7 linked regions of the Homo sapiens genome follow. The protein of the gene in region 1 purifies or fractionates together with the protein of each later gene. This does not show direct contact. Each region holds a gene or a part of one and is shown in the gene's direction. Other genes may lie near its edges.

The links.
Region 2: the proteins of ZRANB1 (region 1) and FBXW11 purify together in Homo sapiens (affinity purification with mass spectrometry; 3 studies listed by BioGRID and IntAct, with this or other methods). This does not show direct contact.
Region 3: the proteins of ZRANB1 (region 1) and STRIP1 purify together in Homo sapiens (affinity purification with mass spectrometry; 4 studies listed by BioGRID and IntAct, with this or other methods). This does not show direct contact.
Region 4: the proteins of ZRANB1 (region 1) and CTTNBP2NL purify together in Homo sapiens (affinity purification with mass spectrometry; 4 studies listed by BioGRID and IntAct, with this or other methods). This does not show direct contact.
Region 5: the proteins of ZRANB1 (region 1) and STRN4 purify together in Homo sapiens (affinity purification with mass spectrometry; 4 studies listed by BioGRID and IntAct, with this or other methods). This does not show direct contact.
Region 6: the proteins of ZRANB1 (region 1) and SLMAP purify together in Homo sapiens (affinity purification with mass spectrometry; 3 studies listed by BioGRID and IntAct, with this or other methods). This does not show direct contact.
Region 7: the proteins of ZRANB1 (region 1) and CTTNBP2 purify together in Homo sapiens (affinity purification with mass spectrometry; 3 studies listed by BioGRID and IntAct, with this or other methods). This does not show direct contact.

The regions. Positions count from the first base shown.
Region 1 is NC_000010.11:124,976,374-124,980,403, forward strand, and holds part of ZRANB1 (ubiquitin thioesterase ZRANB1), read left to right. Parts: intron 1-4,030. UniProt on the Homo sapiens protein: Ubiquitin thioesterase, which specifically hydrolyzes 'Lys-29'-linked and 'Lys-33'-linked diubiquitin. Also cleaves 'Lys-63'-linked chains, but with 40-fold less efficiency compared to 'Lys-29'-linked ones.
Region 2 is NC_000005.10:171,902,000-171,906,029, reverse strand, and holds part of FBXW11 (F-box/WD repeat-containing protein 11), read left to right. Parts: intron 1-4,030.
Region 3 is NC_000001.11:110,044,548-110,048,577, forward strand, and holds part of STRIP1 (striatin-interacting protein 1), read left to right. Parts: exon of another isoform or gene 1-140; intron 141-292; coding exon 293-358; intron 359-467; coding exon 468-531; intron 532-2,132; coding exon 2,133-2,204; intron 2,205-2,994; coding exon 2,995-3,069; intron 3,070-3,224; coding exon 3,225-3,322; intron 3,323-4,030. UniProt on the Homo sapiens protein: Plays a role in the regulation of cell morphology and cytoskeletal organization. Required in the cortical actin filament dynamics and cell shape. Part of the striatin-interacting phosphatase and kinase (STRIPAK) complexes.
Region 4 is NC_000001.11:112,448,002-112,452,031, forward strand, and holds part of CTTNBP2NL (CTTNBP2 N-terminal-like protein), read left to right. Parts: intron 1-940; coding exon 941-1,171; intron 1,172-4,030. UniProt on the Homo sapiens protein: Regulates lamellipodial actin dynamics in a CTTN-dependent manner. Associates with core striatin-interacting phosphatase and kinase (STRIPAK) complex to form CTTNBP2NL-STRIPAK complexes.
Region 5 is NC_000019.10:46,739,739-46,743,483, reverse strand, and holds part of STRN4 (striatin-4), read left to right. Parts: intron 1-3,745. UniProt on the Homo sapiens protein: Calmodulin-binding scaffolding protein which is the center of the striatin-interacting phosphatase and kinase (STRIPAK) complexes.
Region 6 is NC_000003.12:57,758,968-57,762,997, forward strand, and holds part of SLMAP (sarcolemmal membrane-associated protein), read left to right. Parts: intron 1-4,030. UniProt on the Homo sapiens protein: Associates with the striatin-interacting phosphatase and kinase (STRIPAK) core complex, forming the extended (SIKE1:SLMAP)STRIPAK complex.
Region 7 is NC_000007.14:117,789,750-117,793,779, reverse strand, and holds part of CTTNBP2 (cortactin-binding protein 2), read left to right. Parts: intron 1-998; coding exon 999-2,652; intron 2,653-4,030. UniProt on the Homo sapiens protein: Regulates the dendritic spine distribution of CTTN/cortactin in hippocampal neurons, and thus controls dendritic spinogenesis and dendritic spine maintenance.

The DNA.
Region 1 (4,030 bases):
AGGATGAACCTGGTTTGGTTCCTAAGACAGTGGGTTCTTGGCATTGTGGTTTCACAGGTCTGCCTTGTAGTTTTGGTTAATGTCACTCTGCCCTGTAAGATGGAAAGCCAGGTTTGAACTGTGGTAAATCTACCACTTTGCAGGTTCTCTCTAAAAAGGCAGCCAGTAATCTTTTCTTTGGTGGTAATTTCCTTTTTTTTTTTTTTTTTTTTTTTTGAGGCAGAGTCTTACTCTGTCGCCCAGGCTGGAGTGCAGTGGCATGATCTCGGCTCACTGCAACCTCTGCCTCCCGGGTTCAAGCAATTCTCGTGCCTCAGCCTTCGAAGTAGCTGGGATTACAGGTGGCGCCACCATACCTGGCTAATTTTTTGTATTTTTAGTAGAGATGGGGTTTCACCATGTTGCCCAGGCTGGTCTCGAACTCCTGAGCTCAGGCAGTCCGCCCACCTCGACCTCCCAAAGTGCTAGGATTACAGGCGTGAGCCACCGCGCCTGGCCTTTTCTTTGGTGGTAATTTCCTGATCTGTTGAAAGGCCAAAAGTACACTGTGGATTTTAGAAGTGATGTCTTTTTTTTAGTGATGAGGGTTTTTGGTGGTGGTGTTTGTTTTTTGAGAAAGGGTCTTGCTCTGTCACCCAGGCTGAAATGCAGGGGCACGATCTTGGCTCACTGCATCCTTCACTTTCTTGGGCTCAGGTGATCCTCCCACCTCAGCTTCCTATGAGTGGCTGGGACTGTAGGAGTGTGCCACCACACGTGGCTAATTTTAAAATTTTTCTGTAGAGATGAGGTCCTCACTGTATTGCCCAGGCTGGTCTTGAACTCCCGGACTCGAGTGTTTCTTCTGCCTTAGCCTCCCAAAGTGCTGAGATTACAGGCATGAGCTACTACTGCACCTGGCCTTTTTTTTTTTTTTTTTCTTTTTTTAAAAAGACATTTGTGGTGAGTAAGAATTGCTTTGGGGTTTATGCCCACCTGTTCCTCAGAGCTGGCTATGGATGATCTTATGAGTGAGTTGTCACTAATGTTTGTATCGGGACTGGAATTCTCAGATGGTTGCAAGTCATTTGAGGTCCCAGAAGTCCAGCATAGAGATAGGGAGATTGTGGGCAGATCTCTTGAGCCTAGGAGTTCAAGACAAGCCTTGGCAACATAGTGAAACCCTGTCTCCACCAAAAAATACAAAATTTAGCCAGGCGTGGTAGTGTGTGCCTGTAGTTCCAGCTACCTGGGAGGCTGAGGTGGAAGGATTGTTTGAGCCTGGAAGGTTGAGGCTGCACTGAGCCAAGATCATGCCACTGCACTCCAGCCTAGGTGACAGAGTGAGACCCTGCTAAGAAAAAAAAAAAAAAAAAAAAAAAAAGATGGTTTGGTGGAGAAATACAGTCTGATGTTGTAAATAGGCTAGATAGGGAGTGGCTACTAGGGTGAGAAGGAACTAGGCTGTTTGTTTACAGCCACTGGCAAGAGTTGTTGCAGCAGAACTTTTAGTCCATAGTCCTGACTCTTAAAGGATGCTTCAGGAGTGAGCACCTAGGGCTGGCATATGGACAGGTGTCCCAGAACAGCATGGTTTGGCATCACCTCCTCCAGTCCCTGCCACCGGGGAGCTTTGCCCGATGGTTTACAGTTCAGGCATAGGAAGCTGCATTGATTACAGTGATCACACAGACATCCTTACAGTATTGGGGGGTGGGTTGGGGTGAAAATTAGTGGTTAGATAGTAAGTGTTGTTGCCATGGATTCGGGAGATCAGATATACTAGCCCTAAGGAATAACCCATACATAGTTCTTGTGTTGAGTTGCATTAGGTTTGTCCACTGGGCCTGTCATGTGACCAGTAGAGAGTAGAGTGAGCAGCCGTGGGTTTTCTAGGCCAGGAGAGGAGGAGCCAGCATGTAGCTTGTGTAGTCTCCTTTTAAAGATGCTCTTTGCTGAGGTGCCTTTTGCACTTAATTGAAATCAGCTGGAGTGAGATGTTTTCTTAAGTCATATAAGATACATAGTAAGAACTGAGAAAGCAATTTTCTTTTATTTGAACCCCTCCACCCGTCACTTCAAGATAGGCTATTTGTGTTTGTAGCTAGCTGTGCTGTTCTCTTGGATACCCGTGATTTTAGCTGACTCAGGTTCTCAAGTCTGAATATATTGTACTTGCCTTTCAGTGACATGCCAACCCAATTTCCCACGGGGCAGGTGGAGGCGTTTAATGTTAATTGGGGAAAAAAATCAATATAAGTCTTTTAGAATTATTCCTTTTTTTCTTTTTGGAGACAGGGTCTTGGTCTGTTGCCTGGACTGGAGTGCAGTGGTGCGATCTTGGCTCACTGTAACCTTATACCTTGTGGGCTCAAGCAATTCTCCCACCTCAGCCTCCCAAGTAGCTGGGACTACAGGCACATGCCAACATTCCCAGCTAATTTTTTTTTTTTTTTTTTTTTTGTATTTTTTTGTAGAGACGGGGTTTCGCTATGTTGCCCAGGCTGGTCTCAGACTCCCACCTCGGCCTCCTAAAGTGACTGTTTTTGTTATGAAGAATTATCGGCCGGGCCTGGTGGTTCAGGCCAATAATTCCAGCGCCTTGGGAAGCTGAGGCTGGAGGATTGCTTGAGCTCAGGAGTTCAAGACCAGCCTGGGCAACATAATGAGACCCTGTCTGAAAACAAAGAAAAACACAATGAGATACTACTTCACATGCACATAAATGGCCATAACCAAAAAGACAAATGATAACAGTGTTGTTGAGAATTTGAAGAAATTGGAATCTTCATACATTGCTGATAGCAACGAAAAATGTTCTAGGTCTTGAACTCCTGGGCTCAGGTGATCTTCTAGCCTCAGCCTCCCAGTTAGCTGGGATTGCAGGCACATGGGCTCCTTGTGATTTTGATTTGCATTTCCCTATTTAATGATGATACTGAGTGTCTTTTCATGTGCTTATTGCTCATTCCTATAGCGTCTTTGGTTTAATATCTTTCCACGTCTTTTGCTCATTTTTAAATGGATTGTCTTAATATTGATTTGCAGATGTTGTTTGTATCAGGTCCCTTATTGGATATCTGCTTTGCAGATATTTTTTTCTATTCTGTGGCTTGTCTTTTCACTTCATTAGCAGTGTCTTTTGAAATCACGAGTCTTTAATTTGATCAAGTTCAGTTTATCAATGTTTTTCTGTTATTGCTCATGCTTTTGCTGTTGTATCTGAAGAGATTTTTGTCTAGCCCAAGGTCACGAAGATTTACTCCTGTGTTTTCATAGAAGAATTTTATAGTTTTAACTTTTACATTTAGGTCATTTTTGTTTTACATTTTGAGGTCATTTTTGTTTAAAGTGTGAGATGTCCTAAATTCACCTTTTTGCATGTGGATACCCAGTTGTTTCGGTACCTTTAATTGAAAAAAACCCTTTCTACATTCTATTGCCTTGGCAATTTTGTCGAAAATTAGTTGACCATAAAAGTAAGGGTTTGTTTCTGGACTCTTAATATTTTTCTATTGATTTATTTTTCCACTGGGCTATCGTTATGTCATTACCAGACTGTCTGGATGATCATATCTTTGTAATACATTTTGAAATCTGGACTGTAAGTCATTTGACTTTGTATTTCTTTTTCAACATTGTTTTGACTATTTTGAGTCCTTTGGATTTCCATATACATTTTAGGATACAGCTTTATCGATTTTTGTAAAAAAGACAGCTGGGATTATGATTGGGATTGCATTGAATCTGTAGATTTAATTGGGGTGATGGTGGTATTGCCAGCTTGACAATATTGAGCCTTCCAATCCATGAACATGGAATTGAGTTTTGAATGTTAAACCAAACTGGTATTCCTGTACCATTTGGTCATATATTGCTGGATTTGGTTTGCTTGTCTGTTCTTATGGAGACTCTGGTAGTATCAGAGTTTAGGTCTTGGGGTGGTGAGGATGAACATTTTAACATGTTTAGTTTTAAAGTATATTTCATTGAACCTCCCTTCTTCAGTGGTCTTTGAAGAGTTTTGAGTGCAATCACCATTGAATTTCTG
Region 2 (4,030 bases), on another chromosome or scaffold:
TAATTTATTATTGAAGTTTTTCCAGACTTTCATCTGGTTCCTGTAATTAACAACAGCAGCATGTCTTCAGCACTGTGTGCGAAGTATTATGGCCTCAATTTTCTGAGGCTGTAATGTGTCCTCTTGTTGCCTTAGGAAGAGGGGGTGGTGGTGAGAGATGGGGGAGTCTCAGCATGATAGAGTAATGAGAGCCAGACATAGGTACTTCAGAAAATGCTTAGTTTTAACACCTCAAAGCACTTTTTAGCCCAGGCAAATGGACCACCTTATTCAGTAACCTCTTTGTCCTGAATAGGCTTGAAACCAGAAAGTTACATGCTCTGCATGGCTCCTGAGGGTGGCCACTCTAAGGTACCTGAATAGAGATTGTGTGATTCCTGTTCTTCTCAAAACATTTAAGGGGCCATGAGACTTATACCAAGAAAATAAAGGGGGGGGGGTTAGCTTTTTGCTGGAGGAGATGCGTAGTATTTTTTCTGCAGAAGGTAACAAGAAGAATATTGTGTATCGGCCTTGTCCATTGATATCTGCTGAGAGGATTTGGGGGAGAGTAGAACAAAGACTGATATTTCTTGAGTGAACTTCTTATTTACCTAGCTCTTTACGTATGCTGTTTTTTAAACTTTCGCAGCAAGACTGGGAGGTTCCCTCTATGTAAAATGAGGGTATGTAGAGTACCTATCTCAGAAGGTTATTGTGAAGATTATATGATGTAATTTATTTCAGACATTTAATATCATTCTGATATTATGGAAGACTGAGATCCTAAAAGGAAAACTGATCTGCTTAAGGTCACACAACTAGCAGTTGACAGAACTGAGATGCAACCTAGTTTTTCTGACTTTCAGGCAGTGTGTTTTTCACAAGACTAAAACATGCTGCCTCATAGAAGGAGGAAATGCATTTAAAGTATCAGACAAAGGAAATAGGTCAAATCTCATAGATATCACTGAGATGTTGCTTAATTGGACTGATGGCATTTGAAAGAGGAAGAAATAAGTATTAGTAAGGGATTTATTTCTGTAAAAACTCATGATAGCCTAGTTGTGAGCAATTGATGGGGGAATCAAAGAGGACTAAAAGGGATATCATTGCTATAAACCAATAGTTCCTAATACTTCAGCATTATCTAGTGGCACTTCTTAAAAATACAGATTCCTGGCTGGGCACGGTGGCTCACACCTGTAATCCCAGCACTTTGGGAGGCCGAGTTGGGTGGATCATGAGGTCAAGAGATCAAGACCATCCTGGCCAACATGGTGAAACCCCATCTGTACTAAAAATACAAAAATTACCTGGGCATGGTGGTGTGCGCCTGTAGTCCCAGCTACTCGGGAGGCTGAGGCAGGAGAATCGCTTGAACCCAGGAGGTGGAGGTTGCAGTGAGCTGAGATCCCACCACTGCACTCCATACTGGCGACAGAGTGAGAATCTGTTTCCAAAAACAACAACAACAACAAAAAAACCACACCCAGATTCCTGGGCCTTACCGTCTAGAGATTCTGATTTTGTAGGTCAGGAGAAGATTGGGGGGATCTTTTCTTTTTGCTGTTGTTTTGAAAATCAGTAACCCTGAGTTGAGTCAGATACAACCACACAGGCTTATAGACCACCCAGATAGGTTGAAGGTTTGGGTGCTGCTTTCCCGTCACAGATGATGGGGATGTTGCAGCCTTTGAGGTTTGAAAAGGCGAGTATCTAATGCATTCTTTTTATTTTTTATTTTTTTTAAAAAAAGACAGAGTCTTGCACTGTAACCCAGGCTAGAGTGCAGTGGCATGATCTCCACTTACTGCAACCGCCACCTCCTAGGTTCAAGTGGTTCTCGCGCGCCTCATCCTGCCAAGTAGCTGGGATTACAGGCGTGTGCCACCATGGCTAATTTTTGTATATTTAGTAGAGATGGAGTTTTGCCATGCTGTCCAGGCTGGTCTCAAACTCCTGGACTCAAGCGATCTGCCCATCTTGGCCTCCCAAAGTTCTAGGATTACAGGTGTGAGCCACCATGCAGCCCCTAATGCATCCTTGTCTTGCCATTTGTTTCACCTTTCAGAGAGCAGAGGGTTCTAGAGAGGAATTAGTTTGAGATGTGTTTATAACCAGTTAGGAGGATTTGGGTTAATGATGTGAAGTTTACATTACTTTAAAAGTGGCTATGTTCTCAGCCTGGGCAACATAGTGAGATCCTGTCTCTACTAAAATTTTTTTTAAAAAAAATTAGCCTGGCATGGTAGTGCATACTTGTAGTCTCAGCTACTAGGGAGGCTGAGGCAGGAGGATCACTTGATTCTGGAAGGTCAAGGCTGTAGTGAGCCATGATCATGTCACTGTACTCCAGCCTGGGCAACAGAGTGAGATGCTGTAATTAGCTATGTTCTAATATTAAGTGTAGAAATCAGAAAAGGAAGATAGATAAGTACCCCAGCGTTAGAAAGATTGAAAGAGCTAAGTCTGTTAGTCCACGGCTAGAGACTGAACAAAAATGTGATAAAAGAAGGCTGACGGATTCTGCAGTTTGAAATTCTGATGAATAATTTGTCAATCCTAGTGATGGAGAGGCACAAGCAGAACCCCACGTGATTATCCTTGGATTTCCCTGATTTTAAGTAAACATAGAAGATGGAAGAAAGGCAGCCAGGCGCAGTGGCTCACGCCTGTAATCCCAGCACTTTCAAGACCAAGGCAGGAGGATTGCTTGAGCCCAGGAGTTGGAGACCACCCCGGGCAATATAGTGAGACCTCATCTCTACAAATGATAAAAAAAAATTAGCTGGGTGTGGAGGCATGTGCCTGTAGTCCTAGTTACTTGGGAGGTTGAGGTGGGAGGATTGCTTGAACCCAGGAGTTTGAGGTGGCAGTGAGCCATGATTGTGCCACTGTACTCCAACTTGGGTGATAGAGTGAGTCCCTGTGAAACCTTTGAGAATGGTACCAAGAAGACCAAACTCCAAATAATGTTAAATTGTCCAAAATGTTGAAGTAAATTGAAAGAGTTGAAAACAAAATAATTAACTATTTGGAGCCAGATTATAAAGGATGAAGGGATAGTGTGCTTAGAATAGATAGTATAGTGATAATAGAAAGAAACAACATATTTTCACTCCCATTAACCTAATCCCACCATCCCCCCAACCCAAGAATAATGGCTTTAAAACAAAGGTTAGCAAAGTTGTGTTTGAGAAAGATGTGAAGATATTTAGCAATCACATAGCTCCTATAGACAAGTAGGCCTAAATACATTGTATGCCTGGATAGTGGCAAAACCTGTGGTTGTGATTTTTCAAATTGTAGAACATTGTGAAGCAATTGAAAATCAGTATGCAGAACTATTGGGTACAATTGTGCCCTGTACAGCTTGTACAGTTGCACATGGTAGTCTTGCATGATAGCACCAGAGATGATTGATGAGCAGACTTCCTGGTTTTAAGAACTGGAGAAGGTGTTTTTGGGGGATTTAGCTATTAAATTTGATGTTGTGCTTTAGCAGAATTCTTAGATGAGTTTCAAAGGCTAATCAGCCTCTGAAAAGATTGTGTATGGTTGTGTAAACCTAGAAGGATGTATACAGAATGTGAAAAGTGGTTCCCTTCTCTGGGAAATGGGGTTTAGGGATTTAAAAATTTTTGCTCATCTACACTTTATAAATTTTCTATAATGAACATGAACTAGATATGTTTAAAAGGGTTACCAAGCAGCTAGTGTCAACATGTAAGTGAAAAATTGCAATACAACTTTATGTAGTAAACCCCAGCACGGGAACATGAAAGCAGCCATACCCTCCTCACCTTATTTCCTTTTTGGATAAAGTTACCAGGCTAGTAGGTAGGTCTGAAGAATGATGTAAATAGATGGTAATATCATCATCTGCTGATTTTTCCAAATACCTCCGAGGACAGAATAGAGAGATATGGACTGGGCAATGGCACATATAGATGACTACAGACCGGATGTCGCAGTGTGGGTGCCCTGGGCATATTGATGCGGCATCAGTGCTAGCTTGGAGGGAAATATTATAATAATAGGTACTAAT
Region 3 (4,030 bases), on another chromosome or scaffold:
CTTGTTCATACTATCTGAATAAAGCATGTTTTTAAGTTTGATATATCCCTTTAATTTTATGAATAAACTAGTTAACATGTATTTCCAGGTTACTGATCCAGCAAAATTATAAGAAACATTAAAATTCTCTGAAAATTTCAGTTTTTTCCCTTTTTTCAAAGAGAAAAACAATTATAGGAGACTTCTCCTGGCTTCACAGTTTCTGGATGCTGTGTTTTTGTTAACTGTAACACTTTGAAATAGCATTTGCTAAAAACCTTTTTTCTTTCTCTCTTTTTTGGTGATGTGGCAGAGAGAAAGACATTGAGATGTTCCTTGAGTCCAGCCGCAGCAAATTTATAGGTTACACTCTAGGCAGGTGAGTAAAAGCCGAGTTCATTTTGCTGTTAGCTCTCCCGGCCTTTGGTGTTTGGGATCCCAGGTGATTTGATGTCGAGGCTCAACACAGGGCCTTCTTTATTCTCCAGTGACACGAACACAGTGGTGGGGCTGCCCAGGCCAATCCACGAAAGCATCAAGACTCTGAAACAGGTGAGTGGCTTTGGGTGAGCTTTTGGCTTGTTTGGTCCTAAGTGAGTAGAGTGAAACCAGCCTGTAGGGAGAAGCCTTTTAAGACTGTTGTCTGCCTGCAAGAACCTGGGGTAGAGGCCGGGGTGGACTTTGCAATAACCTTGCAAACAGTCTTTCGTAAGTTTTGCTTGTTTTATTATAAGTTTTACTTGTTTTAGCTGAGCTTTTGTTTGGGACTGACTGGGAAGTCTTTAAAGATTATATTACCTGACCACCGGGCACCAAGGCATGCACCTGTAGTCCCAGCTACTCAAGAGGTTGATGCAGGAGGATTGTTTGAGCACAGGAGATCAAGGCTACAGTGAGCTATGATCATGGTCCTGCACTCTAGCCTGGGCCACAGAGTGAGACCCGGATTCTTTAAAAAAAAAAAAAAAAAAAAAAAGGATTATATTACTTGACAGTTGTTGAAATTCTAAAGAGCTCAATAAATAGCCCTCCTTTTCCTTGCCCACGTTCTCAGGCGGTTGAAATAGAGGAGTAGGCAGATGGAGATTGTAATGCCAACTTTATAGCTCATAGAGCCATGGAGAATGAGGCTTAAGAACACAGCAGTAGTGTCCTAATACGTTGTTCCAGAATTAGGCAGAGTTACCTACCAGTCCCAGGCAGTGTGGGGAGGCTCTGCCAAGCTTGGTGGCGGGGAGGAGAAGAGAGCAGACTCTCAGCAGGCAGACAGGTTCTAAAGAGAAAAGAGAAGGGTGAGGACAAGTCCGCCCTGTGTCCCCTCCCATACTCTCCGATCAGAGAAGGGAGGAGTGAGTGTGTGGACGGGGCAGAGAGAGATGAGGGGTGTTTCGCAAACCCCTGTCCCTCCACACGGGAGAGAACATTAAGAGTGGGGAAGAGGCATCTCCCCTAACAGCTATCTGGAGTGAAACTGTTTTTATGTTTTTGAAATATATTTTTGGAATTTGTAGTACTAAGTGGTCTCTCTGCAGCTAGGCTTTTTGAGTACTTGATTTTGCTTTCAGTTTTTCTCCTGTTGCTGTAGCTATCTGAAAGGCCATTTCCCTCCTTTAATTTACTTTTTTCTTATCTACCATGGGCTTCTTACTGTAGTTGCAAGAGGAAGGGGCCCTTTTAGAAAAATATTTTGGGGCCAGGCATGGTGGCTCACGCCTATAATCCCAGCACTTTGAGAGGCCAAGGTGGGTGGATCACCTAAGGTCAGGAGTTCAAGACCAGCCTCACCAACATGGCAAAATCCCATCTCTACTAAAAATACAAAAATTAGCCAGGTGTGGTGGTGCACACCTGTAGTCCCAGCTACTTGGGAGGCTGGAGCAGGAAAATTGCTTGAACCTGGGAGGCGGAGGTGGCAGTGAGCCAAGATCATGCCACTGCACTCCAGTCTGGGCAACAGAGGAAGACTTCATCTCAAAAAAATAAAAATAAAAAATATCTGGGGTTTGGGATTTTAGCTAGGGATTTTTGTGGTGACTTAATCCTCTTTCAGAAGACTGTGTTTGAAGACAAATGTGTGGGGATTTTGCTAGAGTGCAGGGAGTTTGGCCAGAGAATGTTTTCCCCAGCCCTTCTTTTCCCATCTCTCCCACCAGCACAAGTACACGTCGATTGCAGAGGTCCAGGCACAGATGGAGGAGGAATACCTCCGCTCCCCTCTCTCAGGGGTAAGTTGGAGGTCCTCAGTCCGGGCGCGGTGGCTCACGCCTGTAATCCCAGCACTTTGGGAGGCCGAGGAGGGCAGATCATGAGGTCAGGAGATTGAGACCATCCTGGCTAACATGGTGAAACCCCGTCTCTACTAAAAAAAAAAAAATTAGCCAGCCGTGGTGGCGGGCGCCTGTAGTCCCAGCTATTCAGGAGGCTGAGGCAGAAGAATGACGTGAACCCGGGAGGCGGAGCTTGTAGTGAGCCGAGATAGCGCCACTGCACTCCAGCCTGGGCGACAGAGCGAGACCATCTCAAAAAAAAAAGTTAGAGGTCCTCTTCAGCCCCCGGGATCCCCAGCTCTTCCCAGGCATTGTGCTGGGATTAGACCACAAGGTTGCCCCAGGCCCTGCCCTCAAAGAGCTCCCAGTCCACCTCCCAGTGCACAGGCTGAGACACGTCTAGTGCAGGGTTAAGAATACAGACTGAGTCAGGAACCTGCCTCTGATGCCTGGGTCCACCACTTTATGGATGGCAACTTAGGCAAGTTACTGGGTCTCTCTATGCTTTATTTCCTTGTCTGTGAAATAGGAATAATAATACCTTTATAGGGTTATAATAATAAGGATGAACTGAGTTATTACAAGTAAAATGCTTGGCACATTGTTTGTGTTCAGGGTTTGCTGTTATCATCATTAACATCATTATGTACATCACTGTTTACAGGTTTTCCTCCAGCCAGCTAGGAAGCTGGCTCAGGAGATTGTATTCTGGGCTGGGGTTTTATGCTTGTACTCATTATGTTAAAAGGGAGAAGAAGAAGTTGAGCAAGTCCCTGCAGAAACCCTCTACCAAGGCTTGCTCCCCAGCCTGCCTCAGTATATGGTGAGTGGTGCCTGCAGTGGGACACTCCCACTACACTGGCCTTAGAGCAGGCCCTGCCGTCCTCCTGCCACCTGCAGACCAACAGGAGGACTGCTCAGAGCTTAATTTTGACCCTGGGCTCTCAGACCTGTGTCTGAATGGTCTACTCTTCCCAGATTGCCCTCCTGAAGATCCTGTTGGCTGCAGCACCCACCTCAAAAGCCAAAACAGACTCAATCAACATCCTAGCGGACGTCTTGCCTGAGGAGATGCCGTGAGTATCATTCTGTGAATGAAGCAGGTGGGGCAGAAGATAGATGGAGAAGGGCAAACATTTTCCTCTTGTCAGGTTGGTTGTTGTTGGCCCAGCTCTACAGGTTAAATGTAGGTATTTTTGACCCAAAAAAAGGAAACTACGAGATTAAAGAGTTTCACTGGTTGGGGAGATGGCTTGGTCCTGTTGGCCTGGATTCTAGTGTAGACTCTACCACTGAGCAAACTCCTGAGTGAATTGGGGAAAGTCATTTCCTCCTCTGTAAAATGAATGGGGCCACCCTGGACATTTCCCCAAAGCCCCACTCTCCAGCTGTGATTGAGACACCCAGGATGAGGAGGGTTAGTTTGTAGACAGCTTGCCAGCAACAGCTGAACCTGTGCCAGGTATAGAGACATCCCTTTTCGCCAGTGATTGGGCACGCAGAATGCTGGCAAATGTCTCAGGGCGATAGAGTGAGATTCTTCAGAGCTCTTCTGCCCTGTGCCCTGTACTTGTCTTTCATGTGAGAGTCCAGATTGAGATCATGTTCTACTTTGAGAAGGACCTGGACCTTGACCTGATCTTCTGCCTGCCTGGGCCACCAGCCCTGAGCCCAGCTCCTGGGTGGCTGTGGCCCCGGAGTATGGCAGTGATGGCCGGCTGAGGGAGGAGGCAGGGGTTGGCTAACACCAGAGGGAGGATCACAGAACACTAGGCCATCATGTG
Region 4 (4,030 bases), on another chromosome or scaffold:
TCAAGCTCTTCCTACAGAGATAAGGAAAGAGGGAAGCCTAGGAATATCTTTCCACCCACTTCCTGATCCTTATACTCCCAACTGGGTACCCAGGGCTAACGTCCTTGACCAGACTCCAGGCACCAGCTTGCATCCCTTTCTTACATGCTCATCCCCAAGGCTCATCAAGCCTTGAAAGAGACAGAAAAGAGAATGGAAAGTAACAACCAGAGACAAGAAGAGGGGGTGGAATTTGGCAGCAGGTGGAAGAGGTTTTGTCTGCATGTCTGGTTATGAGGTGCCTCCATCCTCCTTGACCCATCAACAACTGAGTAATGGTTCATATGTACAGGTCACAAGTAGTCCTAGATTGTAATGTGATCCTGCTTATATTTTGCACACTTTATATATCTGCTGGCATTTTGTTAGGTCTCTAAATATATAAACTCATAAAATTATCATACTTAACATGTTTTAGAAATGCTAGTACCATAACACGGAAAAAAATAAGATGTACCTGCTGGTAATATAAGCATTCATAAGCAGATATAAGCAGAGTCAGTAAGCACAGAGGTTAAGGACACAGACTTCGGGGCCAGGTTGCCTGGGTTTAAATCCCAATTCAGACAGCTTGCTAGATGAGTAACCAGGAATAGTTTTCTCATCAGCAAAATCGAGATGATAGCACTACCTTACAGGGTTGTAAATTTTAAACAAGTTAATCTGACTATAAATATTTAAAACAATGTCTAATACATAGTGCTTTATAAGTATTTGTTCTTGTTAATATACCATGCCACCTTTCTAATGCTGTTTCTTTAGATGGCTCAATCTGACTTGTAATTAGTAGGTTACATTTATACTAATACCACAACCTTTAATGTATAACCACTGGATAGCAAATCCCCCTTCCTCAGTAGTTTTAAAAAGCAAGATGCTTATTTTTTTTCCTCTTTCCCAGGCCCAACACAGAGATACTTTCATTGAAGAACGCTATGGAAAATATAACATCAGTGATCCTTTAATGGCTCTACAGAGAGATTTTGAAACACTGAAGGAGAAAAATGATGGCGAAAAGCAGCCAGTCTGCACAAATCCACTCTCTATTCTTAAGGTTGTGATGAAGCAGTGCAAGAACATGCAGGAGCGCATGCTGTCCCAGCTGGCTGCTGCTGAGAGCAGGCACCGAAAGGTAGGTTCACCTCAGTTGATGTGTAAATCTTTGTGAAGTCTTTATAAATTATGCCTGATACTTTCTTGTCAGCTGCCAGTTTTTCACAGTAATTCAATTGGGACATCTCACGGGTATCAAAAAGCCCCTTAGTTTATGTAAGAGCCAGGAGATAAAAAAGAAAACACAGCTTATTGCAAATGTTAAGTTTAGAGAACGTGCCAGACACGTTATTTAAGACAGCATTTCTTCTTGATATGTCACTCCAAAACACTTTGTATGTTTTTTCAGTTCTTGATCATTCAAACTTTGGGGTTTGGCCAAGCTTGTAGCTGACGGGAGTGTTCTCTATTTGCTTACTTAAGAGATAAATAAAAAGATTAACAGGTATTTGAGGCATGCTATATCCAAGGGAGAGAAAGAATTTACCTGAGGATAAACACAGAAGCCAATAGATTATTTTCATTTATTCCTATTATTCCTAGTTTTGAGTTTCATTGCATTTTGTTGCTCATGAAACCATAAACAGTCCCTTGGTTTATTTACCTTAAAGGTGTTCTACTCTATTAGTGAGGGGTGTGTGTGTGTGTGTGTGTGTGTGTTTTCCATATTTAACAAGCCCTAAAATAGGAAGGCAAACCTTATGGTTATTTACAGTATTTACTTTAAAGCTGTTCTACCCTATTAGTAAAGAGTGTGTGTGTGTGTTTCCATTTCTAACAAGCCCTAAGAAGGCAAACCTGTGCTTTCCTCTGCTTCATCTTACTGGAATTCTAGTGCTTGTGAATTTATTCACCAACTTGTCATCTTGTCATTTACTCCTCAAATTTGGCCTGTAAAAGATGCTTGGCTACAATCTTCATTTTTAAAACACTGTCAGTTTAGATTTATGCCAACAAGGCAGTTATCAGTGCATTTGGTAGGAAACATTTTCATCTGAAAAATAGGGTTAGCAGCTGCAAAATTTGGTGGACCTTACTTTTATGGTTATCAGCATTAGAGCCATCTTCTTAAATTGCATCTGATACATTTTCTAGGCTCTGGATCTTGCCCGTGATCTTTTCTTTCCCTTCACAGAAGCCAAATGAAAGGCCAGAGTGGAACTTCTTAACCATGGATAGGCCTCAGATGTTCCACAGTCCCCCAGAAAATAGACAGAATGTTCAGAGTTTATGCATTTTTGTAGGAAATGTATTTTTTCCATAGCTTTAATCAGATTCTCCAAGTTACCCAAGACCCAAAAATGTTTAACCTCTGGTTAGAATGAAGTAATCTGAAAACATTTACACTCCAATTTAAAAGGTATCAGTGGGTGGGAGTTAGTTGCCTAAATTGGGTGGAGGGGGAGCTTTTACATAATTCTCTAAAAATCTTCACAACATTCTTGTTTAATAGGCAGGCTTTATTTCCACTTCATCCATGAGGTGACTGAGTTGTGTTGAAGCTAGTTGGGCTAGCTTTCATGCCCATGGAAGGTGTACTAGGGACAGTTTGTGTTTCTAGGTGATTGGAGAGAGGAAGAAGTTAAAAATAATTCAAAATTTCTTAATACTATATTGCAGTGCTAAATGTTTTAAGTGAATATTAAATTTTTGAAACAAAGTACCTATCTATTCTTTTTTTTTTTTTTTTTGAGGTGAAGTCTCACTCTGTCACCCAGGCTGGAGTGCAGTGGTACAATCTTGGCTCACTGCAACCACCACCTCCCAGGTTCAAGTTTAAGTGGTTTATCAAAGTAGAAGACTGACTTTGTTAGAAATCAAACAGTACCTAGAGGCTTATAATTAGGGTGCTCATAGTCTCAGCTTATGCCTGTCACCTTGGCTTAGTTATTAACCATATTCCCTTTGACTGTCAGAAATGTTCTGGTTTGAATAATAAATTACATGGTCATTGTGCTTACAATGAAAAACAGTTTTCTATTCCACCTCTTCTCATTCCCCATCCTCCCCAGTATTCACAGGCAACCAGTTTTTTCTTTTAGCCATTCACTTTGGTAGCTAACCTCCATATTTCTAAATACTGCACTGTTCTCTCTTGCTTTATCAATTTTAGACATTTATATTACTTTCTTTTATATAGGTGCAGATTTAGTTATCTTACACCCCGCCTCCCTTTCCTCTCCTTAACCCTTACCCAGAACAAATTTAATCCTCTTTTCCCACCACCATTCTCTGTCACATCTACTATTCCCAAATCCTGAGCCTGTCACACTATTTCTTGAATGTGACAGGCTCAGGATTTGGGAATAGTAGATGTGACAGAGGCCAGATGCTGATGGTCTGTGTGCAGGAATCAGGGTGAAGGGACAAATAATTCTGAAAATACAGGCTTTGAAGGCCAGACACAGTGACTCATGCCTGTAATCCCAGCACTTTGGGAGGCCAAGACAGGCAGATCACTTGAGGTCAGGAGTTCGAGGCCAGGCCAGCCAACATGGTGAAACCCCATCTCTGCTAAAAATACAAAAATTAGCCAGGCATGGTGGCGTTCCTGTAATCCCAGCTACTCGGGAGGCTGAGGCAGAAGAATAGCTTGAGCCCAGGAGGTGGAGGTTGCAGTGAGCTGAGATCACACCACTGTAATCCAGCTTGGGTGACAGAGCAAGACTGTCTCAAAAAAAAAAAAAAAAACACAAAACAAACAAACAAAAAAACAGGCTTTGAGCCAGTTCTCCTGTTTTCTATTCTACATTTCACCTCTCCTCTGCAGTACCTGCCACCTCCAGGTTCCATCTCTTTGGGGCTCTGCAAGGCAAAACAGCTTCCCTCCTTCAAAGTAAAGTAGTTACCACAACTCCAGCCTCTTTTCTTCTTCAAAATATTATTAAAATTTTTTCTCTGCTAGAGGCTCTCTCCTTTGTGGGGTTTTAGTCTTTTT
Region 5 (3,745 bases), on another chromosome or scaffold:
CTCTGGGACTTTGCACCAGTGCACCGCACAGCACCCACCACACCATCTTCTCATCCTGGAGGCTGATGAGAGAAAAGATGTTTATCCCCTCACTTACTGACCCTTCTTGGAGTTTGAGAGGAACTTGTGTCTGGCATGGTACCAGCACTGTCACTTTGTACTTTTGTTTTCTTTTATTCTGTTAAGTTAGTAAAAATTCAGACATCTCAGAGGGGTGTGTGTGTGTGTGTGAGTGTGTGTATACACATATATATGTAAGTGAAAAAGGAAAGTTCCTTCTCTTCGTCCCTTTCCTGCTCTTCTCTCCTGAGAGAGAAGAGTTATTGTGCTTATGTAATAGATGAACTACTGCTGTATGTATCATTTTGTGACATAATAATCTGTTTTGGTTTTCCTTTCATATCAGCACAGAGAACTCTTTCTTTTTGATAGCTGCATAGCGTCCCACGGGATGTTTGCACCATAGCTGATTGAGTTTGACCCTGGTTGGTGGACTTTTAGATTTTTTCTAGTTTTTCCCCCATCAGACATGGCTGCAGTGAGAACCCCTTATTCCTGTGCAAGAATGAAGCAGAACAGATGAGTGGAATAGTAGAATGGATGTGTTTATGAAACAGTGATTGGGCTGGGCGCGGTGGCTCGCGCCTGTAATCCCAGCACTTTGAGAGGCCAAGGCAGGTGGATCACAAGGTCTGGAGTTCAAGACCAGCGTGGCCGATATGGTGAAACCCCACCTCTACTAAAAATACAGAAATTAGTCGGGCGTGGTGGTGGGCGCCTGTAGTCCCAGCTACTCGGGAGGCTGAGGCAGGAGAATCGCTTGTACCCGGGAAGCAGAAGTTGCAGTGAGCCGAGATCACACCACTGCACTCCAGCCTTGGTGACAGAGCGAGATGCCATCTCAAAAAAAATAAAAATAAAAAAAGAAACAGTGAATGACTCTGCCACATTGACCCACCAGTTTACTCTCCCATCAGCGGCACCTCTTTTACACACCTTTACTTGAACACTTAGTGCTAACAGACGGTGTGACTTCCCCTGTGAGATCCCTTAAGAGCTAGGCAGTGTCAGATTTTCCTGATGGACTCTGAATAACTTTTCTCTGAAGAGCTTAATACAGCTGCTCCTAGCAGAAGACCTGCCGTGCGACCCTGCTTGGTACCTGTGTGTTGAATGGCAGAGAAGGCAGCCCCCAGGGAGGTCCTGCCAGTAGTCACCATAAGTTTGGAGCAGGAAGGTGGCGGAGCTGCAGTCTGATAATGAGCAGGCATTTGCTAGGTGGGGGATTCTGAGAAGTAAGTAACGTGGTTTCTGCCCATCCGAAACTTCCAGGCTGGCAGAGGAAGCTTGTTTGTGCAGGGGACCGCAGAGCTGTAGATGTTCATGCACAGTTGATTGTGTGGCTCTGCCCCTGTTCTGTGGCAACTCTGAGAGGGGAAGCTTTTTGAGGATGGGAGGGACCTTTTAATGAGGGATCTGAACTGGAGATTTGTATAGGAGCAGCGACAGGGACCTGCAGTGAGTGCGGTGCCAGCAGAGAATGTGCGGAGCTGCCCCTGCCCACTTCAGCTTCCTGGGGGCCCATTCCTGCCAGCAGCTGCTGAAGCTTGGGAAGGAGGCCCTTAGGAGATGCAGGGCTAGATGGCACGAAACGGGGACTCTTCCCAGCTAGCTGGGACAGGAAGCAGCGAATTCAGAGAGGCATCAGCTCCTGGGAGGACTGAATTGCTGGGACTCCTCCGAAGCCTTTAGATGTCGCCTTGCTGGGAATAGCTGGAGGGGCGGAGAGGCAGTAGCTGCCAGGTATCAGAAGGTTTTGGGAGCGCATGCTCTGCGGCTCTGGCTAGAGGGAGTGGCAGTGGGTGGATATGGTGAGCGGCACTTCCAGATCCCCGACCGACCCTCAGGCCTACCTTGGCCCTCGCAGACCAGACAGCCCGTGGGGGCTGCTGGCGTTTGCAGCGAGGGAGAGACTGGCCACTGACGCTTCCCGTTTTTGGTGGGTTTCCACCTCCCTGAGATGCTCCAACCATGTCTTTCTGGTTCTCTTTCCAGAGGCACTGGGAAAGGGACAGCAAAGCAGAGTGGGCAGCTGAGACCCTCACATCCTCATTAGGAGGAGGGAGACCACAGCTCGATGAGGCAGCAGAGGGATGAAGGGGGAACCCAGCCAGTGACAGGTCTGGTTGGGATGCCCAACTCCACCTCCTGCCCCCACAGATAGACCACTACTGTGTCCACTGCCCCGGCCTAGTCCAAGCCACTACCGTTCTGTCCTGGGATTTCTGGGACTGCCCTCATCTGTGATGGGGGTCTCTGTGTCCAGCTCTGCCGCTCTCCTGCTCCCTCCCTCTAGTCTCCCTCCAGAACTCCCTCCAGTCAGTTCTCCATGTTTTAGCTGGAGCTGCCTTTATAACATGCGAATCGGTTACCTCTCTGTACTTAAAACCCTTCCATGGCTTCACTGAGCCTTTTACAGGTTCTGAAGCAGCCATCCTGGCCTTTTTTAGAGTTCCTTAAGCCCACCATGCAGCTCTTGTCTCCGTCCTCTGCCAGCAGGGCCCTTCCCTCCCCTGGCTAACTTCTCTTCAGCTTCAGGCCTTAGCTGAATTGTCGCCTCTTGTCCCTCTTCCCATAGCGTCCTTCGCTCCCGCAATGGGGTCCTAGTCACATTGCATGTGAGTTGCTGCTCATGCCTGTCTCCTGCATGGGACTGAGCCCTGTGGGTGCAGGAACCACATGGCTCCTCTGTTATTCCCCAGCGCCTTACTGGGGCACCTGATGTGTGTGGGCAGTCACCAAACAGTGGCAGGTATTGACCAAGGTGTAGGTTCCCGGCAGGCTGAACTGCCCCTGGGAGGTTGAGGGATCAATCACCAAACCCCAGGAGGGAAGGGAGGAGAGTGAGGAGGAAAGTCAGGACTTGTCTTCGGTGGTCGGTCTGCCTCTCCTCACACCTTCTCCAGTGATTCAGAGAGTAGATTTGGGGGACTGAGAAGATACACAAAGGACAGAAACTCATGCTTCAGAGATGCTGATGTCATATAAGTAGTTTCCCTGTCTGGCCTTGGATGTTTATATACATATGTGTTGGTAAAAAGTGTTAAAAAGGAAAAAAATTTCCCATTCTTGAAGCGGACAGATGAGTTTTCTTTTCTATAAGGTAACTGGTGACATGTATTTCTTTTTTTTTTTGAGACGAAGTCTGGCTCTGTCGCCCAGGCTGGAGTGCAGTGGCACGATCTTGGCCCACTGCAATCTCCACTTCCCAGGTTCAAGCGATTCTCCTGCCTCAGCCTCCCGAGTAGCTGGGACTACAGGTGTGTACCACCATGCCTGGCTAAGTTTTTTGTATTTTTAGTAGAGATGGGGTTTCACCATGTTGGCCAGGCTGGTCTTGAACTCCTGACCTCAAGTCATCTGCCCACCTCAGCCTCCCAAAGGGCTGGGATTACAGGCGTGAGCCACTGTGCCTGGCCAATCCACAGACATTTCTAGTTGATCTGGGGTCTCCAAGGGATCCTACCTCCCGTAAGGAACTGGGCCCATTTCGAAGTTGCGAACAATGGACAGGGAGAATAAAAATGATGAAAGAAGTAGAAGCTGGCATTTGTTAGCCTTTATTCTGTGCCAGGCCTTGACTGAGCAGAACCTAGCACATGAGGGGAGGGCACTCTTGTGACTCTCATTTTCTAGAGGGGCAAATGGAGGCTCAGAGAAGGCTGATGACCTGCGTAAGATCATG
Region 6 (4,030 bases), on another chromosome or scaffold:
TAAGTCTTCAAGAATATGTTTTGAAATGAAAGAAACCTGAGCCTCAAAAGGAAGAGAAAAAAATGATACTTCGGCAGCTACTGATTTAAGGAATTATTTTGTAAATTATTTTTTAAAGAAAGGAGGAAAAGATTGTCCAAGTGCTGTGTGCTGCATAATATCTATACTTTACGTGTAGGATGAGAACTGAAGAGTATGTTAACTTTTCTGTTTAACACCAGATCCTCATTTACCTGTGGAACAGACCCTTCACTCGCTCCTCGCAAGCTGAAGTTAGGGTGCCTAAAATACTTCATAGATTACTCGTAATCCTTTTTTTTTTTTTTTGAGACAGATTTTTGCTCCTGTCACCCAGGCTGGAGTGCAGTGGCGCTATCTCAGATCACTGCAACCTCTGCCTCCCGGGTTCAAGTGATTCTCCTGCCTCAGCCTCCAAAGTAGCTGGTATTACAGGCACACGCCACCATGCCTGGTTAATTTTGTATTTTTAGTAGAGACAGGGTTTCACCATGTTGGCCAGGCGGTCTTGAACTCCTGACCTCAGTTGATCCACCTGCCTCAACCTCCCAAAGTGCTGGGATTACAGGCGTGAGCCACTGCACCTGGCCCTCATAATTCTTTAAAATGAATATTCATAGAACTCATTTTTCCAGCAGTTGAATTCAAACATCAGTTTACTACTAAGTAGTGCCTTAACTCAACCAGCTTTTACATTTTCACCATTTTATGTTCTTGGGCAACAGGTCTAAACTAATCAGACAACAGGTTGGCTCACAGTACATACTCTGCGAATGCACTTTCTTTGATGAAACACTCGAAGGGGACTCCCATTTTTTGTTTTACTTATTTGAAAAATACTGATTTCATGCCCAGTGCTTTCCATGGCTGTACTAAAACTCTCACAATAGGTTATTTTGAGATAACTAAGAATAGGTCAGTAGTGACTGTTTCATGAATTGAGATGACATGTTAATATTTGTTTTTTTTCTTTGAGATGGAGTCTCGCTCTGTGGCCAGGCTAGAGTGCAGTGGCGCAACCTCAGCTCACTGCAACGTCTGCCTCCTGGGTTCAAGCGATTCTTGTGTCTTAGCCTCCTGAGTAGCTGGGATCACAGGCGCATGCCACCATGCCCAGCTAATTTTTATATTCTTCGTAGATACTGGGTTTCACCATGTTGGCCAGGGTGGTCTTGAACGCCTGACCTCAAGTGATCCACCCTCCTCGGCCTCCCAAAGTGCTGGAATTACAGGCATAAGCCACCACACCCGGCCATGAAATTAGTTCTTCAGAAAAACTTATCTTTGAATGGTAGATATGGCTTATTTCTACCATTTTCACTTTTTTCCTCCTGCTTTATTAGCTAAAATAACACGCAGGCTATGAGACCACTACTTTAGATATAGATGTAATTATTGATTATTATACCACTTAATCTAGTTATAGCGGATGCTCTGTCAGATCTTACCATGTCATTGAATTGTTTTAGGAATTAACTATTTAAAGTTTTGGTTTGGACAGATAGTAGGTTTTAATTGAGCATCTATTATGTGCCAGACACTGTGAGGGATACAGTTCCAAAGAAAACCCACAGTGCGACCAAATAGTTCTCGTATGAAATTTGCAGTGTCTGTAGTCCCACCTACTCGGGATGCTGAGGCACGAGGGTTGCTTGAGCCCAGGAGTTTGAGGTTGCAGTGCTGTGATTATGCCACTGCACTCCAGCCTGGGTATCAAAGCAAGACCCTGTCTCTTAAAAAAAAAAAAAGAATCCCTTCAGAGAAGGAGTTTCGTTCTTGTTGCCCAGGCTGGAGTGCAATGGCGCGATCTTGGCTCACCACATCCTCTCCCTCCTGGGTTCAAGTGATTCTCCTGCCTCAGCTTCCCGAGTAGCTGGGACTACAGGCATGCGCCACCACGCGTGGCTAATTTTGAGTTTTTAGTAGAGACAGGGTTTCTCCATGTTGGTCAGGCTGGTCTTGAACTCCCAACCTCAGGTGATCCACCCACCTCAGCCTCCCAAAGTGCTGGGATTACAGGCATGAGCCACCGCGCCCGGCCAGGTTTTTTTTTTTTTTTAAACATCTGGGGATGATAATGGTACCTATTATTGTTTTGAGAATTGAGGTAATTATATAAATCACTTAGCACCCTGTCCCTGGCTCTTACTAAGCACCCAATACTCAGCAGAGAGGGTGTTTAGTGGGGAAGAGGGAACTATTTAGACAACACTGTGCAATTTGCTATAGTGCTATGGAGTCTTAGGAAGGTGATGAGAAATTATTTTCTTTAATGTGATGGCATATATAGAATAAATTTTGTTTTTGTTTTTGTTTTTTGTTTTTTTGAGACGGAGTCTGGCTCTGTCACCCAGGCTGGAGTGCAGTGGTGCGATCTCAGCTCACTGCAACCTATACCTTCTGGATTCAAGAGATTCTCCTACCTCAGCTTCTCAAGTAGCTGAGATTACAGGCATTCATCACCATGCCTGGCTAATTTTTGTATTTTTAGTGGAGACAGGGTTTCACCATGTTGGCCAGGCTGGTCTCAAACTCCTGACCTCAGGTGATCCACTTGCCTCGGCCTCCCAAAGTGCTAGGATTACAGGCATGAGCCACTGTGCTTGGCCAGAAGAAATTTTTAAAATTGAAACTGATGTAGTTGATAACTTTGTCTAAATTGGCAGTTTACCTGGGCGGTCGACAATTGGGGTAATATGTGCTTTGGGTGACTTTCACTTTGTGGTGACTGTTGCATTCTGCATTGTCCATTATGGGAGGCTCATTAAAAGTTGGAAGAAGGCCGGGCGCGGTGGCTCACGCCTGTAATCCCAGCACTTTGGGAGGCCGAGGCGGGTGGATCATGAGGTCAGGAGATCGAGACCATCCTGGCTAACAAGGTGAAACCCCGTCTCTACTAAAAATACAAAAAATTAGCCGGGCGCGGTGGCGGGCGCCTGTAGTCCCAGCTACTCGGGAGGCTGAGGCAGGAGAATGGCGTGAACCCGGGAAGCGGAGCTTGCAGTGAGCCGAGATTGCGCCACTGCAGTCCGCAGTCCGGCCTGGGCGACAGAGCGAGACTCCGTCTCAAAAAAAAAAAAAAAAAAAAAGTTGGAAGAAATAGGCCAGGCTTGGTGGCTCATGCCTGTAATCCAGCACTTGGGGAGGCTGAGGCAGACGGATCACGAGGTTAGGAGATCGAGATCATCCTGGCTAACACGGTGAAACCCTGTCTCTACGAAAAATACAAAAAATTAGCTGGGCATGGTGGCATGTGCCTGCAATCCCAGCTACTCGGGAAGGCTGAGGCAGGAGAATTGCTTGAACCCGGGAGGCGGAGGTTGCAGTGAGCTGAGATCGCGCCACTGCACTCCAGCCTGGGTGACAATGTGAGACTCTGTCTCAAAAAAAAAAAAAAAGTTGGAAGAAATAATAAACACTTGAAACTTTATGATTATTCAAATGATACATGTTCATTTTAGAATATCTGCAAAATGTAGGCAGGTGGAAATCTAAGTGACACTTTTTAATGCTAAGCTCATGGAATATCTTATTGTATAATACTTAAATCTGCATGTTGAAGGGTGACAGGTTTGGCACAAAGCAGAGTTTCATAATCTTTACCAAATCATCTTCTCAGTAATGTAGCAGTTGGATATTGCCTTGTTGGATGCTGGCCCTGTGTATTATCCTTCATCCTTTTCGGAAGTCAAGCTCTTCAAATTAGATGGCAGATAGTAGAATGGTTTTTTTTTTTTTTTTTTTTTTTGAGCCGGAGTCTTGCCCTGTCTCCCAGGCTGGAGTGCAGTGGCGCAATCTCGGCTCACTGCAACCTCTCCCTCCTGGGTTCAAGTGATTCTTCTGCCTCAGCTTCCCAAGTAGCTGGGATTACAGGCATGAGCCACCATGCCCAGATGCCTGGCTAATTTTTTGTATTTTTAGTAGAGACAGGGTTTCACCATTTGGCCACGCTGGTCATGAACTCCTGACCTCAGGTGATCTGCCTGCCTCGGCCTCCCAAAGTGCTAGGATT
Region 7 (4,030 bases), on another chromosome or scaffold:
ATCAGTTAGAAAAATGATTTCACTCTGGAAAGCACCAATCCTAAGGGCCTATGGCTTGGTGAACAGACAGTGCCTTTCTGTGAAGGAAAAGGCACCCCTGTCTTCATGCCTGGGCAGGCAGCTGGGTGAGTAGGGAAATCCAAGGAAGGGAGAGAGGGCTGGAATTTTGCTCCTACTCACCCTCCCACAGGTCACTCTTGTGCCATGCGCACATGGCTTACTGCAGGAGCGCTACGGGAAGGTGTGTGGTGGGAATCCCATGCAGAGAGAACAGCAAGGACAAAGACCCCGAGGCAGGACCATGTTTAGGAAACTCCGGGCATCCAGCGAAGCTAAGGGAGTAAGCAGGATCAAAGTAGGAGACAAGGTCAGGCTCCAGGTTCACTGACACCAAATGTAGTTCTAATAAGATCGTTCTTTAGCTCTTTAGAGTTTTCAAAGAACTTTCTTTCATATATAATTTTATATGATTTCCACAACAACTCATCATAGGAAGCTCAAAGATGTTACATTACTGAGATAGGTAATACAATTAGCAAACATGGGGGCTTAGAATTTAACTGAAGTCCTCGGTTTTCAGTACTTTTCATGATACTTTACCTCAGAGATTAATAATTTTAAAGCATTAAACCTTTTTTAAAAATATCACCAATTCCATCACAGAGCTGTGTTTTTACAAAAATAGACCTTTCTGATCCCTGTGCTGTGATTTAAAGCATCTGGTTATTGTTCTCTTTTTCTGTAGTTAACTTCAATAGACTTTAAAAATTCTCTATTGTTGTAATTTAGATGTCTTTATAAAGCCATTTACGTCTATTTTCTCATTTTAATGTGTCTTTAAAATATTTCTTATCACAACACTTTTTGAAAATGTGGCGTTTTTGCTAACCCGAGTTATGTAATTGTTAGAAAATTAATAAAAATCTCACAAAAAGCATTTCCTTGGTGAAAAGAAAATTCTGTATATTAATCAGGGTTTTCCTGTGAATTTCTTTCAGCTGGAAATGGAGAAGCTTCAGCTACAAGCCCTTGAGCAAGAGCACAAGAAGCTGGCTGCCCGCCTTGAGGAAGAGCGTGGCAAGAACAAGCAGGTGGTCCTGATGCTGGTCAAAGAGTGCAAGCAGCTCTCAGGCAAAGTCATAGAGGAGGCCCAGAAGCTCGAAGACGTAATGGCCAAACTGGAAGAGGAAAAGAAAAAGACGAATGAATTAGAAGAGGAACTCTCCGCTGAGAAACGAAGAAGCACAGAAATGGAAGCTCAGATGGAAAAACAACTCTCTGAGTTTGACACTGAGCGGGAACAGCTTCGTGCCAAGCTGAACCGGGAAGAAGCACACACCACTGACCTCAAAGAGGAGATAGACAAGATGAGGAAAATGATTGAGCAACTGAAAAGGGGAAGTGACAGCAAACCAAGCCTCTCTCTTCCACGGAAGACAAAAGATAGGCGTTTGGTTTCCATATCTGTGGGAACAGAAGGAACTGTGACAAGGTCTGTTGCATGCCAGACAGACCTAGTGACAGAAAATGCTGACCACATGAAAAAGTTGCCTTTAACCATGCCTGTAAAACCTTCCACAGGGAGTCCCCTAGTTTCTGCAAATGCAAAAGGGAGCGTGTGCACCAGTGCCACCATGGCCAGACCAGGTATTGACAGGCAGGCTTCCTATGGTGACTTGATTGGCGCTTCTGTACCCGCTTTCCCACCTCCAAGTGCAAACAAAATTGAGGAAAATGGACCAAGCACTGGCTCAACACCAGATCCAACCAGTAGCACACCCCCACTTCCCAGTAACGCTGCCCCTCCCACCGCTCAAACACCAGGCATAGCTCCTCAGAACTCGCAAGCTCCACCTATGCACAGTTTACATTCACCATGTGCCAACACCTCTTTGCATCCAGGTCTAAACCCACGAATCCAAGCAGCTAGATTTAGATTTCAGGGCAATGCTAACGACCCAGACCAAAATGGAAATACTACCCAAAGTCCTCCGTCAAGAGATGTCTCGCCTACAAGTCGTGACAACCTAGTGGCCAAACAACTAGCTCGGAATACTGTGACCCAAGCACTGTCAAGATTTACAAGCCCTCAAGCAGGTGCTCCCTCAAGGCCTGGAGTGCCCCCAACAGGGGATGTTGGCACCCACCCTCCAGTTGGTCGGACCAGTTTAAAGACTCATGGTGTAGCACGAGTTGACAGAGGAAATCCTCCTCCTATCCCTCCAAAAAAGCCAGGGCTCTCCCAAACTCCTTCTCCACCACACCCCCAACTCAAGGTTATTATAGACAGCAGCAGGGCCTCGAACACAGGGGCCAAAGTTGATAACAAAACTGTGGCTTCGACTCCTTCCAGTTTGCCACAAGGGAACAGGGTGATCAATGAGGAGAACCTTCCTAAGTCATCCTCCCCTCAGCTGCCACCAAAACCATCCATAGATTTAACTGTGGCACCTGCAGGCTGTGCCGTTTCAGCCCTGGCCACGTCTCAGGTGGGTGCCTGGCCTGCTGCAACCCCCGGACTGAACCAACCTGCATGTTCAGACAGTTCCCTTGTCATTCCTACCACCATTGCCTTTTGCTCTTCCATAAACCCCGTTAGTGCCTCATCCTGTAGACCAGGTGCCTCAGACAGCCTCCTGGTAACAGCATCAGGTAAAGGGATTGAAATGTTATACGCTTTTTAAAGAATATGGCCTCTCTTCTCACTTGCCTTGATTTTCTTCACATTGCCTTGAAACTTTTTTTTTAAATTTGATGCTTCCCCCCACCCCCATTTCTTTTCTTTCTCTCTCTTTTTTTGTATTTTTTTTAAAGGCTCCAGGGTATGGTGATTCATCTTGCTATATGAATTGCGGTTTCGCTATGCTAAGTGCTTTCTTCATTTAAGATAACCTGAAAGTAGTGGCTTAAAGCACATGGAGACCATTAATTTAGAGAGACTAAAATATTTACATGGGAGAAAAGAGTATTCCTTCTTATTAAATATTTATCTCGCAAGACCTCAGTGGGTCATGATCAGACAGTACGTGTTCAATTCTGTTCCTTCTGAGATGACATTTTTAAAGACCTTTCAAGTAATTATTAACACTATGTTGGATTACCAAATTGACTAGATTTGTTCCGTAATTGGTATATTTTAAGTTCTAATATCAGTTTGGTGTTTTCGGTTTTTTTTTTTTTTACCTTCAGAAATGGAGTGTGAATATTTATAAATCTGTTCTAAGTTTAGTTTATTTCAAAAGCCATGTACCCTATTTAGTGCTGCCATCTTCCAACACTCGGGCACAGATGGTTAACATAGCATGTGGGCTATGTCACAGAAGGTTTCCACTGCAGGTGTGGCTTATGAAGTCACTGAATCTGGGACTCTTGAACAAAGAAGAGGTGGATTTTTCCCTTTTGTTATACAGTGCTAGAGAAAGCATTGCTTTTTACTGACATGACTGGATTAGTTATTTACTAAGCAAATGTGGCTCTAAAGTAATGTTACCAAAAATACATAATTGTAAATGGCAGAGACTGGATTCCAAACACATCTGACTAACTGCAAAGTCCATGCTGTTTTCAATTCCCAATTTTACCCCTCAAAATGTGGATGACAAAGTTCTGTTGACACTTTGAAGAAGTCTCTCCTACCATGGGATCTTAGTGGTTGGTGGAGATTGTTGGTTCAAATGGGAGAGAACTTTTATAATTACAGGAAGGTTTGAACAGTTGTTATATTTAATACTTTGAGGGGAGAGAGAGAAAAGCAAATAGCATCATATTTGCTAATTATCAGGTGATGACAGCAGTACACTAGGATTTATTTGTCCAATTATAAGCTATCAACTTGAAATTAAGGTCTTTGAGAGGCTTTATCCATATTTTGAGGGGCGAAATAGGGAATTGGAAGCAGCATGGACTTGGAAGTTAGATCTATGTTGAAATCTAGTCTCTGCCATTTACAATTGTGCATTTTTGGTGACTTCTTTTGCTACTCATATGGGGGAGGGTGGCTGTTAGGAGGATTGGATCCTATAACCTGTCA